Linked DNA regions of Homo sapiens: region 1 is linked to region 2. Evidence: fine-mapped expression QTL. Tissue or cell type: whole blood. Region 2 holds a variant in brackets; the other region holds the start of a gene. All regions are shown on one strand. Distances are between the middles of the regions.

Region 1 (2,764 bases), 120 kb after region 2:
GGCATTTGAAAATTGAAAGTGTGATTTATGGAAATTAAATCATCTGTAAAAAATTGCTTTGGAAAGTAATGATTGCTGGCCATAAAGGGAAATATCTGCGATGCACCTAATGTGTTTTTAACCCTTTATTTGCTGACAATCTATAGTCATTAATGCTAAACTCGATTTTGGCTTCAGCTACATTTGCATATTGTCCAACAATGGTCTATTTTTGTAAGAATTAGATAAAATGTATACTTGATATAAAATAGTCAAAAATGTAACTCTTAGTAACAGTAAGCTTGGCATTTAGATAGACCATGAACACTTCGTCAGATACTCTGTTGGGTGTTTGGGATAGCAATTAAAACAAAGTATTGATAGTTGTATCAGAGTCTATTAGGCTGCAGCAAAGGAAGTTTATTCAAAAGTATAAACTATCCAAGATTATAGACGCATGATATACTTCACCTATTTTTTGTCTCCTTAATATGTATATATATATATATATATATATATATACACATATATGTGTGTGTGTATGTGCGTGTGCATGTTTAACTTTTAATTCAGTTAAAAACTTTTTTCTATTTGTTTTTCATCTGGATATTTGATTCTGCATATCCTAGCCCAAGTGAACCGAGAAGATCGAGTTGTAGGACTAAAGGATAGACATGCAGAAATGCATTTTAAAAATCTGTTAGCTGGACCAGACCGACAATGTAACATAATTGCCAAAGCTTTGGTTCGTGACCTGAGGTTATGTTTGGTATGAAAAGGTCACATTTTATATTCAGTTTTCTGAAGTTTTGGTTGCATAACCAACCTGTGGAAGGCATGAACACCCATGTGCGCCCTAACCAAAGGTTTTTCTGAATCATCCTTCACATGAGAATTCCTAATGGGACCAAGTACAGTACTGTGGTCCAACATAAACACACAAGTCAGGCTGAGAGAATCTCAGAAGGTTGTGGAAGGGTCTATCTACTTTGGGAGCATTTTGCAGAGGAAGAAACTGAGGTCCTGGCAGGTTGCATTCTCCTGATGGCAAAATGCAGCTCTTCCTATATGTATACCCTGAATCTCCGCCCCCTTCCCCTCAGATGCCCCCTGTCAGTTCCCCCAGCTGCTAAATATAGCTGTCTGTGGCTGGCTGCGTATGCAACCGCACACCCCATTCTATCTGCCCTATCTCGGTTACAGTGTAGTCCTCCCCAGGGTCATCCTATGTACACACTACGTATTTCTAGCCAACGAGGAGGGGGAATCAAACAGAAAGAGAGACAAACAGAGATATATCGGAGTCTGGCACGGGGCACATAAGGCAGCACATTAGAGAAAGCCGGCCCCTGGATCCGTCTTTCGCGTTTATTTTAAGCCCAGTCTTCCCTGGGCCACCTTTAGCAGATCCTCGTGCGCCCCCGCCCCCTGGCCGTGAAACTCAGCCTCTATCCAGCAGCGACGACAAGTAAAGTAAAGTTCAGGGAAGCTGCTCTTTGGGATCGCTCCAAATCGAGTTGTGCCTGGAGTGATGTTTAAGCCAATGTCAGGGCAAGGCAACAGTCCCTGGCCGTCCTCCAGCACCTTTGTAATGCATATGAGCTCGGGAGACCAGTACTTAAAGTTGGAGGCCCGGGAGCCCAGGAGCTGGCGGAGGGCGTTCGTCCTGGGACTGCACTTGCTCCCGTCGGGTCGCCCGGCTTCACCGGACCCGCAGGCTCCCGGGGCAGGGCCGGGGCCAGAGCTCGCGTGTCGGCGGGACATGCGCTGCGTCGCCTCTAACCTCGGGCTGTGCTCTTTTTCCAGGTGGCCCGCCGGTTTCTGAGCCTTCTGCCCTGCGGGGACACGGTCTGCACCCTGCCCGCGGCCACGGACCATGACCATGACCCTCCACACCAAAGCATCTGGGATGGCCCTACTGCATCAGATCCAAGGGAACGAGCTGGAGCCCCTGAACCGTCCGCAGCTCAAGATCCCCCTGGAGCGGCCCCTGGGCGAGGTGTACCTGGACAGCAGCAAGCCCGCCGTGTACAACTACCCCGAGGGCGCCGCCTACGAGTTCAACGCCGCGGCCGCCGCCAACGCGCAGGTCTACGGTCAGACCGGCCTCCCCTACGGCCCCGGGTCTGAGGCTGCGGCGTTCGGCTCCAACGGCCTGGGGGGTTTCCCCCCACTCAACAGCGTGTCTCCGAGCCCGCTGATGCTACTGCACCCGCCGCCGCAGCTGTCGCCTTTCCTGCAGCCCCACGGCCAGCAGGTGCCCTACTACCTGGAGAACGAGCCCAGCGGCTACACGGTGCGCGAGGCCGGCCCGCCGGCATTCTACAGGTACCCGCGCCCGCGCCGCCCGTCGGGGTGGCCGCCGCGCCCGGCAGGAGGGAGGGAGGGAGGGAGGGAGAAGGGAGAGCCTAGGGAGCTGCGGGAGCCGCGGGACGCGCGACCCGAGGGTGCGCGCAGGGAGCCCGGGGCGCGCGGCCCAGCCCGGGGGTTCTGCGTGCAGCCCGCGCTGCGTTCAGAGTCAAGTTCTCTCGCCGGGCAGCTGAAAAAAACGTACTCTCCACCCACTTACCGTCCGTGCGAGAGGCAGACCCGAAAGCCCGGGCTTCCTAACAAAACACACGTTGGAAAACCAGACAAAGCAGCAGTTATTTGTGGGGGAAAACACCTCCAGGCAAATAAACACGGGGCGCTTTGAGTCACTTGGGAAGGTCTCGCTCTTGGCATTTAAAGTTGGGGGTGTTTGGAGTTAGCAGAGCTCAGCAGAGTTTTATTTATCCTTTTAATG
Region 2 (2,764 bases):
GGGCCTGGCTTGGCAAAAGCAAGGCCACCCCCTCCTCTATTTTTTCAATGAGATTTTCCAATCCTAGTCAAATGGTGGTGCTAGTTCTTTATTTTTGAGTTACTGCATTTCCTAATTTCATGGTCATAACAGCCTCCTGTCTACCGACTCAGAACGGATTTTACCAAAACTGAAAATGCAGGCTCCATGCTCAGAAGCTCTTTAACAGGCTCGAAAGGTCCATGCTCCTTTCTCCTGCCCATTCTATAGCATAAGAAGACAGTCTCTGAGTGATAATCTTCTCTTCAAGTAGGTACTCCTATTTCTTCTCAATTTATTTTTTCCTTTTTGATATAATGTGCTACTGTTTACAAGCATATTGTAACTTCAGAGCTTACCTCTCATCTTTAAAAAATGTTCATTTTTTTGTCTTTCTGCTCCAAGGATATTTTGCAAAGTTACTGGCAAGTATTCCTGGGATGATAAAATGTGAAATCTAAACTTGGTACAGTGGAAATTCACTTCTAGAATAATATTTAGCTGAGGCAGAGGGCAATCCGACTACCCTTTTCTTAGTACAGCACACACAGGCTGCCTGTCTGTTCCAGATAACATAAATGTATTGGATCTAGCACTAGCTAGGAGACACTGTATTGTTGAACTGTGTTAGAATTTTATAAGCTCTTAATTGGACAAATCTCAGAGTAGCATGAACACACTACCTGTTTTCTGAATCTTTGGAGCCATAACTTACGTGAGTTTGAACTAAGCGATGTGAATAAGCCATTATTTGTTTCCTAAAGGCAGTCAAGTTTTCTGAAAAGCTACACATTTAGCAGCAAAAGAACGAGCCCCTCTGTCTTGAAATGGGCCTCTGATTTTAAGCAAGCTCTTTTGAGTCCTGGTGTCCCATTTTCTCAGTTCCTTTTTGCCTCACAATGGCACATACATAATGACTCCACCACATATAGCAGTGGGCTACTCGGGTAATGATGTGGCAGTCACAAGACAGGGCAGAATACTTTCATTTTGGTTAGAGGAATGCCACATGTCTTAGGAAATGCTCGCTGAACTGTAAGTTTCATACTTTGTCAAGAAGATAACCAGTATTCTCTCAAACAAGTCCGTAGGAGCCAACATGATTAAAAGATTTTAAAGCAATTTACTCGATAGAAGGGTTGGGCTTAATCAGGACTTGTGATCATGGCAATGGTTCCTGCTTAAAGGTGCCAGATTTTTAATGCCTTTATGTGCCAGATCTAATAGGCTTACAGAGCAACTCCATGTATATGAGGTTGCTGGGAAACTCATCTGGTTTTGAATGTGGTATATACATATTTTAATATTGAGAGTAAA[C/CTT]AGGAAGACCAGGTAGAAGTATTTGAACTGAATTCTGAAACGTACAGAGAACTTAAATTGGATGAGAATGTTTGAGAACCATGGATGGTTCAGGGTCCATTTGTATACCATAAAATCCCTTCCTATTTCTCAAAAGCAAATATTTTCTTTGATTTTGTTAATATCCTGTGATGACTGCCCACTAGGCCTTGGAATGCATGCAGATAATGCTGTAGCAGTTGGATAAAATACTCTAGAATGTCAGATTTTCAAGGAAATTACAAATAAAAACAATGTAGGTAAAAGATACGACATGTAGGAAAAAAGCAAAATTTTCCTTAAGAATACAAGCGTCGTATTTACGAGTAGAAGATTTTTCTTGGACATTTGGAGATACGTGTTTCATTTTATTGCTTGTGACAGTCAAGGAAAGGAATAAAGCTCTTGTGTCTTAAACTTGCAGCAAGAACAAAGTCCAACTATCTTTCGTTTCTGATAACTCTGTGTCTTTTTGTTCAATATTGGGTTTAGAGCTAGCTACCATCTACCTTCCCTTCAAACACTCACTCTAAACCTCCACACAGTGTAAGTATTTACATCAGGCATCTGCTAAACATTTTCACATGGTTATCTGCAGGTCTTCTCTGAGTCTGTCTGCATTCATTTATCCTAGTTGCTCAGAACAATCGCTTGGGCTGACGGCCTGGTGGTTGAGTTTACTTTGCTTTGAATAGGGAACAGCTGTGCTCCAGGACTGCAGATTGGCTATTCGGAAAAAAGGGCAAGGAAGAGAGTGACCCAGCTCTGGGTAGACCATCCACACTGTAAAAAAAAAAGTCATAGCATAGTCTTCATCTATGGCAGTGGAGATATGGTCCTGTCCATCCACCTCTATCAGGAGAGGGTCTCCATTGTTAATCTCCGAGAAAGAGGCGCCATCTGTGAAACCTCCTGCATATTGTCTAATGAAGTGCTATTTTGAAAGGCGTGCACTGTACAGGTAAGAGTGATGATGGTGTGCCTGCCTTCTGGGCAACATCTCAGTAGACTTCCTCTGAATCATTCCCACTGGACCCAACAGCAAAAGCGTACACATCATTGAGTTTTATCGTTCTATCTAAGGCGTATAACATTTTTCTCTCTGAAAGTCTGTGATTCTTTCGGAGAATGAAGGGGCTTACCCTATCCATCTGCCCCTAAAAATATTCGCTGGAAAGCTGATACCTCTGCTCAGGTTTTCCACAGCAGATCACTCTTCAGTAAGAATTCTGATATTAAGTAGTTTAATTCAGATCCATGGAAAATGACTGAGTACCAGCCATAGCTCCCACCACTCTCTAGCTGTGCAATTTAGAGGCAGATTATTTAACCTCATGCCTTGAATTTCTCATCTGCAAAGTGGGAGTACTAACAGTAGCTACCAGATATATTATATGGAATAAATGACATT

Evidence for each region. PIP is the estimated chance that this variant, and not a neighbour inherited with it, causes the effect.
Region 1: it holds the start of ESR1, and the variant in region 2 is fine-mapped to the expression of ESR1 in whole blood (TOPMed, PIP 0.98).

What each region holds. Positions count from the first base shown.
Region 1 is chr6:151,806,058-151,808,821 of GRCh38, forward strand. It overlaps ESR1 (estrogen receptor 1), which reads left to right and starts at 1,625. Exons shown (of 8, transcript NM_000125.4): 1 at 1,625-2,307. The coding sequence starts at 1,856.
Region 2 is chr6:151,690,377-151,693,140 of GRCh38, forward strand. It overlaps a transcript of ESR1 not described here. Among named protein-coding and RNA genes, the nearest start is that of ESR1, 120 kb to the right of the region's middle. The variant C/CTT (reference allele first, on the strand shown) is at 1,336.